Homo sapiens: one gene and its partners. The protein of the gene in region 1 purifies or fractionates together with the protein of each later gene. This does not show direct contact. Each region holds a gene or a part of one and is shown in the gene's direction. Other genes may lie near its edges.

Evidence for each region.
Region 2: the proteins of MB (region 1) and NQO1 fractionate together in Homo sapiens (co-fractionation; one large-scale study listed by BioGRID). This does not show direct contact.
Region 3: the proteins of MB (region 1) and LYPLAL1 fractionate together in Homo sapiens (co-fractionation; one large-scale study listed by BioGRID). This does not show direct contact.

What each region holds. Positions count from the first base shown.
Region 1 is NC_000022.11:35,614,486-35,618,612, reverse strand, and holds the start of MB (myoglobin), read left to right. Parts: upstream 1-1,283; 5' UTR 1,284-1,355; coding exon 1,356-1,450; intron 1,451-4,127. UniProt on the Homo sapiens protein: Monomeric heme protein which primary function is to store oxygen and facilitate its diffusion within muscle tissues.
Region 2 is NC_000016.10:69,720,022-69,723,673, reverse strand, and holds part of NQO1 (NAD(P)H dehydrogenase [quinone] 1), read left to right. Parts: intron 1-3,652. UniProt on the Homo sapiens protein: Flavin-containing quinone reductase that catalyzes two-electron reduction of quinones to hydroquinones using either NADH or NADPH as electron donors.
Region 3 is NC_000001.11:219,204,864-219,208,515, forward strand, and holds part of LYPLAL1 (lysophospholipase-like protein 1), read left to right. Parts: intron 1-3,652.

The sequences.
Region 1 (4,127 bases):
TGATAGATGTTGGATGGATGGGTGGTGGATGGATAGATGAGTGAATGCATGGATAGACAAAGAGATGATGGATGGATGAATTAAGGGATGACAGATGGATGGATGGATGAGTAACTGGATGGACAAGTGGATAAATGGATAGATGGTTGAATACCTGAATGGATTGAAGGAGGATGCATGGATGTAAGATAAGGCTAATCATCCTCCACTCTCTTTCTTTGCAAAACCATCCACCCATTTACTCAATAAACATTTATTCAGTTCAAACTTGGCACAAAGCACCATGTGAGGCCCAAGAGATACGTGGGTTAATAAAACAGAGCTCCTGCCCTCCTGAAAACTGCAAAGAAAGGGGCGTGGCTTCCTGAGTTCAAATCCCAACTCTGCCAGCGACTAGTTGTACATCAGTGATGTTTCCCTACTTTCTCTCAATTAAATAGGGATAATGTCAGTACCTATCACATTGGGAGGTCTTGCGGGGATTAAATGAGTTACCAAATGCCAAGTGTTTGGGACAGGGCCTGGCACCCAGCAAAGTCTCTTGTGAGTGCTGGCTGCTATTATCCTAATGGAGAAGATGGCATGAAAACCAGGAAATAGGATGCCCTTTGGGAAGCAATGCAACAGGAACTTACACAAAGAAAGGAAAGGAGGAAGCAATTAGTGGTGTCTCAAAGGAGTATGTCAAGAAAAACTTTTCAGAGGGAAACCTTTGAGCAGGGTCATGAAAACAGGAGTTCTCTAAGAGATTGTGGACTTGCCTGGGACCACCTGGCTATAAGCACAAAACCATCCGGTTCCTTTCTGTCACTTCTGGCTGGGTGAGGGGTCTCTGGCAAAGGGGCAGAAGGTGCGTGAGAGGTTGCGAATGGCCAGGACTGTCCTGGGGCCAGCCGGGGCACCTGGTGGCCAAGCTTAGAAACATGACAGGTCCTCTTGGGAGGGCTGACCGCAGGGAGCGTTGGGTTTCAGGCTGCTGGCGTCGGCTTCTGTGGTGCCCTTTCTGTCGGCTATGAGAGTCCAGACAGTGCCCAACCTCCTCCCCTTCTTTCCACACGCACAACCACCCCACCCCCTGTGGCCTGAGCTGTCCTGCCTCGCCACAATGGCACCTGCCCTAAAATAGCTTCCCATGTGAGGGCTAGAGAAAGGAAAAGATTAGACCCTCCCTGGATGAGAGAGAGAAAGTGAAGGAGGGCAGGGGAGGGGGACAGCGAGCCATTGAGCGATCTTTGTCAAGCATCCCAGAAGGTATAAAAACGCCCTTGGGACCAGGCAGCCTCAAACCCCAGCTGTTGGGGCCAGGACACCCAGTGAGCCCATACTTGCTCTTTTTGTCTTCTTCAGACTGCGCCATGGGGCTCAGCGACGGGGAATGGCAGTTGGTGCTGAACGTCTGGGGGAAGGTGGAGGCTGACATCCCAGGCCATGGGCAGGAAGTCCTCATCAGGTAAAAGGAAGAGATTCCATTGCCCCTGCCACCCACACCCTAAGATCAAGGGTGTTCAGCTGCAAGGTGGAAAGTTTGCACGTGGGGTAGGTCAGTTGGCTGCATTAGTTAAGGGTGTTAGAACGGTCACTTGCTTTTTCTTTGCTTTTAAGTGTCAGGGATTGGACTCAGGAGAGGGAAAGGAGCCATTTCAGGCTGATGTCAGCAGCTGGAGGAAGCATGAGAATCAAACCTAGGATGCTCAGAGTCCACCAGGAAGAATTTTAGAATTATAGACAGTCAGAGTTAACAAGGGTCCTGAGAGATTTTGTACAGCCACCTCTCTTACAGGATGAGGACAAAAAGGGACTGAGAAGGGGAGGACATTTCCAGAGTCACAGCTCATTAAATGCTCTTAAAGTGTCAAGGTTAAGACATGCTCTTCAAGGGGAGACAGATCTGGTTCTAGACTTGGCTCTGCCACTGAGCCACTGGGTGACCTTTGGGAAAGTACTCAACCTCTCGGAGCCTCAATTTCCTCTCCTGTACAGTGAGGGGATATCCTAATATCTATATCCTAGAGGAGATGTGAGAATTAAATAAAATAATGCATGCAAGAGGCCTGGCATGGTTCCTGGCATATACTGAGTCCTAGAAATGTTAGTAGCTATTACTGATGAAGCCCAGGCTAGGGACCTTTCAAAGCATTGCAATTAGAGAACAGAAGATAGAGGCTCATTAGTGACCTTCGATGTTGAGTATGTCTCTAGTTTGAGAGGTCTGAATGATGTGGTCTGCAAGTATATCCTGCCTTCTACCACAAGGGATTCCAGAATACACCAAAGAAAACAAAATTCTGAGGTTTGTAAATAGAGGGTGGCTGTGGTTTGTACATAGAAGCTCATCTCCTCGTTGCCTTCTATCCCAAAGGTGATACACTCTTCTCTTGGCCCCTTCCCTCACCATTCTGAGCTGGTTCCCTCAGAAGTCTAATAGGTTAAGAATCAACGTTTCTGCCAACGGGAGGAAGGAAGTGGGCGCCGGGGTTGCCACAAGTGAATGGATTGTCTTTGGCACTTTAATTTGCAGATTAATTTCTCCTTATTTGTGAGCCAGAGCCAATTTTCCTCTTCCACTCCGTCGTCCTTTGGGTCTCCCTTGGGCTTTACCCATTTCCAGCTTCCGTCTACCTCGGGAGCATGGCTGGTCCTGGAAGCTCCGTTATCTAAAATTTGAGCCGTTGGTGATCCGTGCTAGAAACACTTGAGGAAGAAGAGTTGAGTTTTCTGTTGACTGTAATGGCATCGTAGTGTGTTTATGTCTTTCTTCTCCTGTCCCTGTCATCTGGCTGCAACAGGCCCTGTTGGATTGCACAAAGTGCTCCCCCGACCAACACACACACACAAATTGACATCAACTCCTGGGCCACAGATATGCCATGTGACCTTGGACAAGTCTCTCCACCTCTGGGCCTTATTTCTCTGCTGGTTGAGCGAAGGGATTGTCTTCCATGGTCTCCGAGATCCCGTCCCACGCTCATGCCCTAGAATTCTCTGAGTCCTTGATGCACTTTTGCCTTTGGCGAGGAGGCAGGACAGTCAGGCGTGGAGGTAGGAGACCAGAGTTTGCAGAGCAGAGGTCTTTCCAAGGTGATTTGGGAGCTGCCAGACCTAAGGCAGTGACTTGTACGTCTTGAAAGAGACTCAGGGTGTTGCATCATCAGGGAGGATCACGGAGGTTTGCCGGGGGCCGGGAGCCAGGGATAAGACATAATGCCTAGGGTTGCTGGTCCCTGAAAGGTCCCAGAGGCCTGGTGCCCTGTCACGTCTTAGGTTGTGGGACATGCAGAGACTGTGCCAGCTGGTTCTGCCCTCTCAGTATTTGGGGTACAGGGAGGATGGCCTCCCTGGGGGCAGGGTGGAGGAGGCTCATGCCCAGGACTGCAAATGCCACCCGTGAGAGTTGGCATCTTGACTTTGTTCTAGATACTGACTCTGGATTTTCTAACTGACCTTGAAAGGTTATGTCTCCAATCTTCTGATTGTAAAAGAGGGCAAATTCCATGAAGCCCAGTCTGTAAAACACTGAGGCCTTCACTGCACGTACACAAACATAAAATTCTAGAACACAGAAGCTGGAAGGTCACTTGGAGATTCTGGCTCCAGGAGTGGGGCTTCGGAAGGGAGGGGGCTGCTGAGTGGGCTCCACACCCCTGTTTTTCCTTTCTTTACTCAAACCTTTTTTGTTTTATTTACTTTGGCTGTTTTGGGGAGCGGGGGGAACAAAGGATTTCAAGGTCATAAAATGTTTGAAAATCACCAGTGGTGGTCACTACTTCTCATTACAGGGAGGAACTGGGCCTGAGAGTCTCCACCGGTTAATGGCAGCCACAGGCAGGACCAAAAATTCCTGGGTGATGGTGATGATAATGATAATGATAATGATAATGGTAGAGATGATGAGGAGGAGAAAGACAGCAACCATTTATTCAGCACATACTGATTGCTGGGCTCTGTTTAAGTGTTTCACTCACTGAAGCCTGACAACAATCTTATGAGGTAGATATGATTATGATCACCACATTTAACAGAGAGGTTAAGTAACTTACGCCAAGTCACACAGCAAGTAAGAAAGGAGCTGGAATTCAAATTCAGGCAGCTTGGATCCAGAATCCTTGCTCCTTTTTTTTTTTTTTGAG
Region 2 (3,652 bases), on another chromosome or scaffold:
CCTGCCACTACACCTGGTTAATTTTTTTTTGTATTTTTAGTAGAGACGGGGTTTCACCATGTTAACCAGGCTGGTCTCTAACTCCTGACATGAGGTGATCTGCCCGCCTCAGCCTCCCAAAGTGCTGAGATTACAGGTGTGAGCCACCGCGACCCACCCACAACCTTCTTTTGATCATTTTTCTTTTGAGTTGTTTTGGGGATCTACCTATTCCAGGTACTGCACTTTGATGGTTATATTTGTTGCAAATATATTATTCCTGCTTGTGTGTTGCCTTACATGAAAAATTGTAAAGTCACAGGCCTGCTTATAGCTATTAGAGTCTGAGCTCCTTGAAAGAGCAAGAGATGGATATCCTGATTTGCTCATTTTCTGAGAAGTGCCTTGACTGTCTTACTACTTAGAAAATGCTTGTTAACATTGATGAGAAGTCAATAAAATAAAAACTGTTGGCTGGGCGCTGTGGCTCACGCCTGTAATCCCAGCAGTTTGGGAGGCCGAGACAGGCGGATCACGAGGTCAGGAAATCGAGACCATCCTGGCTAACACGGTGAAACCCCGTCTCTACTAAAAATACAATTAGCCGGGCGTGGCGGCGAGCGCCTGTAATCCCAGCTACTCTGGAGGCTGAGGCAGGAGAATGGCGTGAACCTGGGAGGCGGAGCTTGCAGTGAGCCGAGATCGCGCCACTGCACTCCAGCCTGGGCGACAGAGCGAAACTCTGTCTCAAAAAAACAAACAAACAAAAACTGTCAGAGCGGCGATCAGTAAACATTGATAAGACTAATGGCAAGGTAAGTTACAAAGAAAATGCCTGTTAGAGCTGAATATGCTCACTTCCCTCCCAATCATGTTAAATCCATGGGTTAAAGAGGTAGGAATTTGTTGAGGCAGCCTCAGAGCTTCCTTTTCCTTTTTCCAAGCTATCCCAAGCAAGTCAATCACTTCCAGCGCATTGAAATCATCACCAGACACCTATTCCACTGAGTCTTAGTTTTAAGAGTCCAAAACCCTAGGACCAAGTTTGGAAATCCCCTGGTTTGGCATATTGGGCCCTGAAAGTTACACTTCGCTGAATTTAGCCCAAGAGGCACTTGCCTTGCTAGATGTGGTCAATAATAAAAGCAGGAAGAGAGCTTAAGGTTTAAATGTGCCTTTCTAGTTATTTTAGTTATTTCTAGTTATTCAGATGGTGCAAAAAAGTTGCAGATGCCGGCTGGGCGCGGTGGCTCACGCCTGTAATCCCAGCACTTTGGGAGGCCAAGGCAGGTGGGTCATGAGGTTAGGACATCGAGACCATCCTGGCTAACATGGTGTCTCTACTAAAACAAAAAATACAAAAAATTAGCCGGGCGTGGTGGCACGCGCCTGTAATCCCAGCTATTCGGAGGCTGAGGAAGGAGAATCGCTTGAACCCGGGAGGCAGAAGTTGCTGTAAGCCGAGATGGCGCCACTGCACTCCAGCCTGGGTGACAGAGCAAGACTCCATCTCCCCCGCCCCCACCCCCACCCTGCCAAAAAAGTTGCAGATGCCTTCTCTCCCAGCTCCACCCACTGTTCATGGTAGGGTATGAAGTAGCAGCGCACATTATCAGGAGCAACTGTGGGGGTAAGCGTCCTTTCTCTGGCAATTCGCTCTATGCCCTTGTACGCTGTTGTTTGTATTTCTCACTGTTTGTAAGTCTCACTGTCGCCCAGGCTGGAGTACAGTGGTGTGATCACGGCTCACTGCAACCTCCACCTCCCTGGCTCAAATGATCTTCCCACCTCAGCTTCCTAAGTAGCTGGGACTACAGGCACACACCACTACGCTCAGCTAATTTTTTTTTTTTTTTTTTTTTTGGTAGAAACGGGGTTTCTCCATGTTAGCCAGGCTGGTCTCAAACTCCTGGGCTCAAGCAAGCTGCCTGCCTCGGCTTCCCAAAGTGCTGGGATTACAGGTGTGAGCCACCACGCCCAGCCACTCTCTGTGTTTTTAAATTATTCCAGCTTCACCACTTAATGACTACACACTTGGGTAACTTGCTTCTCTCCTGTGCCTCAGTTTTCTCATCTGTAACATGGGGCTACTCATGGTATTGACCTCATAGGGTGTGTCTCAGTCTATTTTGTGCTGCCATACATAATACTTGGGACTAGGTAGTTAATAAAAAAGAGAAATTGATTTCTCACAGTTCTGGAAGCTGGGAAGTCGAAGATCAAGGTGCTGGCAGGTTTGGCTGTCTGGTGAGAGCTGCATTTGGAGGAATGCTGCGTCCTTACATAGACGGTGGGAGGTAGAAGGTGGAAGGGCAGGTGAGCCCCGTGCTGGGCGAAGCCTCTTTTATGAGGGCCTTAATCCCACTCATGAGGAAGGAGACCCCCTCGCCTAATCACCTATCACAGGCCCCATCTGTTAATCCTCTCACATTGGCAGCACCTGAATTTTGGAGGGGGACACGTTTAAAACATAGCAGGTTGTCCTGACAAAGGAAGAAAGTGCAGGCCGGGCGTGGTTGCTCACACCTATAATCCCAACATTGTAGGAGGCTGAGGCAGGCAAAATTGCCCCAGCCTGGGCAACACGGCTCCAAATTTGACCAGCCTGGGCAACATGGCAAATCCCTGTCTCTACAAAAAAAAAAAAAAAATTAGGTGTGGTGGTGCACACCTGTAGTATCAGCTACTCAGGAGGCTGAGGTGGGAGGATAGCTTGAGCCTGAGAGGTCAAGGCTGCAGTGACCTGAGATCATGCCACTGCATTCCAGCCTGGGCAACAGATCGAGACCCTGTCTCAGAAAGAGAAAAAGAAAAAAAAGGAATGCAAAGCACTTAGGGCAGTGCCTAGCACTAAGGATCCACTAAATACTGTTCTTGCAAATTGAAGCATGCTGCCTCTGACAACCTTGTTAATATAAAAGAGGCCCATTTCCCTTCTACCTGTACCTCTTTGCCATTTCTTATAAAGGAAGCTGAGCTGTTAATAGTTCAATGTGATTGGCCTGGCACGGTGGCTCACACCTGTAATCCTAGCTACTGGGGATGCTGAGGCAGGAGAATCGCTTGAACCTGAGAGGCGGAGGTTGCAGTGAGCCAAGTTCATGCCACTGCACTCCAGCCTGGGCAACAGAGTGAGACTGTCAAAAAAAAAAAAAAGTTTAATGTGATCACTGCACATTTTTCCCCCTCATACCAAGGTGCTGCAAGTCTACATACAAATATATGTCATTTCTTTTTTTCTTTTTTTTTTGTATTTTCTTTTTTCTTCCTTCCCTTCCCTCTCTCCCTTCCTCTCACTTCTTTCATTTTAAATAAAAATGGGTTCATATTCACTTGCTTTTTTATCAGTTAATAATATAGCATGGATATCTTTTTGAGTCACTACATATAGTTAATTCATTTTAATTTTTTTAATTTTTAAAATTTGTTTATTTGAGACAGGGTCTCCCTCTGTCACCCAGGCTGGAGTGCAGTGCGGCGATCACGGATCACTGCAGCCTCAACCTCCTGGGTTCAAGTGATCCTTCCATCTCTCAGCCTCCTGAGTAGTTGGGACTACAGGCATACACCACCATGCCCAGCTAATTTTTGTACGTTTTGTAGAGAAGGGATTTCGCTTTTGTCATGTTGCCCAGGCTGGTCTTGAACTCCTGGGCTCAAGCAATGTTCCCGC
Region 3 (3,652 bases), on another chromosome or scaffold:
ACTTAGATCTAGGATGTATAGAACCTGACAAATGATATGAATAGATTTATCAGAATTTTGATAATATAAGCATATTATCAGAATTTTGAAGCAGAGAGAATCAAGTCTTTCTGGAACTACACTGGAGTAATTTACGTGGATGATCTAAATATCCATCATGACAGGAATGGTTGAGGGAATGATGGCCTATTAATAGAATTGAGTATTATGTAACCATTAAGTACTACATGCACACACACATAAAAAGCACTCAGTAGGCCGAGGCGGGTGGATCATGAGGTCAGGAGATCGAGACCATCCTGGCTAACAAGGTGAAACCCCGTCTCTACTACAAATACAAAAAATTAGCCGGGCGCGGTGGCGGGCGCCTGTAGTCCCAGCTACTCGGGAGGCTGAGGCAGGAGAATGGCGTGAACCCGGGAAGCGGAGCTTGCAGTGAGCCGAGATTGCGCCACTGCAGTCCGCAGTCCGGCCTGGGCGACAGAGCGAGACTCCGTCTCAAAAAAAAAAAAAAACAAAAAAAACAAAAGCACTCAGTAAGTATGTGTTCAATTAAAAATAATTATAAAATTTTGTAATTCTGTAGAAAGACTTTCAAATTAGTATTACATGAAAAAAATAAGATACATTGAACATGTAGAGTTAGTTTAACTGTAAAAATGAAATTTAAGAGAACATGTCAAAATTCTGTACAGTACAAAATATTGTAAAATTTTGTACAAGAAACTTTTGTACAAGAAACATTTTGTACAATGGGTGTATATTAATTTTGCAATAAGATTAAAAATAAAAATAAATGAAGGGATAGTTAGAATTCCCAAGATGAAGTCTAGCATCAAAATTTCCAGCCTGCCTTTTTCTGAACTTGTACACGTTTTCTCTATAGCCCAGCTGGGAGCTAAAACTTCAGAATGATAGCATTCTTCTACTTTCTTTGAACATATATGTATTTTAATTAAACATTTTATGTTTCTTCAACAACTAGTAGGACTTTAAAGGCTCTGGACTGTTGTTCTAACAGTTTTCCATAGAGGAAAATAAATATTTTGTTTATCCCACAAGTTTTGTATGAGAGGAGATATCCAAATAAATGTAATAGTCATAATTTCTGTATTCCCAAATCTGAAGAATAATTATAATAGTATACCAGTTAAATGGAAGAGGTGTTGAAATTTAGAATGGTAATGGACTTTATTGCATGTTTAAAGTTCTTTTCAGTTGATAGCACACTTTAAGTGGATTTTTTTAAGGATTTTACTTTCAGATTGATTATCTTAATGTTCCTAATATAGTCTTTTTATAGATTGTTTCTGTTTTATTTTATATAAAGAGTTCATAAAGCCAGGTTTATTATTTTTTAACATGTTTTATTCAGCTTGTTAATCTTAAGTGTATGTTGAAATGTTAACTCTTGACATTTTAAATACTTTGCCAGCAACCGTAAATACCCGTTATAACCATTACCTACAATGGATTTACTATTTTCGTATTTACTTATTGAACAGTAGATTTTATATCATTTTTTAGACTCTTAGGTGGAAAATTGAATTCAAATAACTAGTTCTTTGTGTTAAATTTTCTTCTGTTAGGAAAAAATACACAAAGTCCCTTTTCACAGTAGTGTCCTATGCTAAAGGTCATTGTATTGTCAAAGACGGCTAGTGAGGAGTTGCAGATTACCTCACAAAATCATAAATGGGAAAGGGACTTAGATTAAATCTTAAAATAATAATATTTCAATGAGTATATTTTTCTTCATTGTAACTTAAGAGAATTAAACATGAAGTTAAATGTCTGCAGGATGCATTTATGTGTATTCATAATGACATTTTATGTGCGGGTAAATGTTTTCTTTCTCTCTTTTTTTTTTTTTAAGTTGTTACCATCAAAAGTCTCTGAAACTACATAAAGTGATTACATTCCCTGGTCAACAAAAATGAAGTGTTTGTCACTTCATATGTAAAATTTTCTTGATAGTTATGCTTTTAAAATCTCTTTTTAATGTAAGTTTTTGCCTACTAATCTTTTATTTACATTTTATCTTTTAATGATCTTTATCTTAGCCTCAAAATTATCTATGAAATACTAATTTTATTTTTGCTTCATTTATAAATTTTGAAGCTTTTTTCAATCATTCGTACAGCTTAGATGGTCTAGAACTATGGTAGCCACTAGCTACATGTTGCTCTTTAGTTAAATAAAATATAGAATTGGTTCCTTGGTCACACTAACATATTTCAAATATTAATTAGTTACATTTGGCAGACACATAATTCAGGCTCTTGAATTTCTCAGAAAAAAATAATAAATTTGCTCCTGCAGCCTTGTTATCTATCGCGTGTGGATTTTCTTTAAATGGTGACCATATTTTAACTTTTTGTTTTTACCCATTTTACTTAATTTTGAATTATTTGCCACACAGCTGTGATTCTCAGACATCTGATTTATGGCATAAGAGCTTTTAAAAATTAGACATATGCAGTGAGATTTTGTTAGTGGGTCTGGGATTGGGTCTAAAATCTTTATTTTTAAGAGGTCAGATTAGGAATGATGGGCTTGGAGCACACTAATCATTCATTCCTAGATTTTGTAGGTTTTTTTAAGCTTTACTTTTATATCAAATTAAATCACCAAAAACCTACATTTTCTGATGATAAATTTGTCTCCTTGCAGAGATATTGTTACTGAGTTACAGTTACATTGTTCATTTGTTTAATAAGTATAAGCACTTTCTGTGTGCCAGGCACTGTTGTAAGCATAGAGGGATACATTGATGAATAAAACACAAAAATCCCAGCTCCCATCATTAAATTCTAGTGAAAGTTAAGTCTTTATGTCCCAGAATTTTATGAGAAGAATCAGCAACAGAAGTGGCAGTATGTAGAATGTCTGATTTTGAATTTTATGTTTAATAAAGATCCATTTAATAAATTCTATTAAGGAATTCAATGCTAAGAAAAATTTCTAGTATGACTTGTTATGATTCCTTCTGTTAAAGAATATTGCCTTGCTACAGAGAAACTGTTAAATGCCCAGTTGCACACGTAATTACTGCCCCCACCCTAACATCATGGTCTGTAAGTCTCTTTTTTTATTCTCTGTGTCTCACTCTTTGCTCAAATCCCATCTCTTCCTCTCTCACATTCTCTCCTATTTTAGAGATGTAGTTTTATTATTAACAGTGTGTTTGATTTTAAGCAACCTGAAATTCCTTTGTAAGTAAATGGGCTGTAAAGAACAGAGGGGAAATTGGAAGAGATGAAGGAAGTGAGTGTTTGGTAAGCTCTATTCTGTGAACTTTTAGGAAAGCTAGAATTGTGTTCTGAGAGATAGGGATTCTTAAACTGAAAGTAGATTTCTGTATTTACAGTAACTGTACATTTTAAAAGTTCTCGCAATTTTAGTTTTTATAACTGATTAAGTATTTGTATTTAAAAGGTTGGTGGAAAATCTAGAGATTAGTCCATCTATCTTGTTTTACTATAAATGAAATCCAGCATTTTAAATAATTTACACAAAGACATTCAGCTTGGGAGTATCACAGGCAGGACTAGAACTAGTTTCCTTAATGTTGTCTCTTTGATAAGCTTAAGAGATATTTGTAAATTTTTTACTACTTTCATTAGAAACCCATACGGTTTCTAAAAATTCA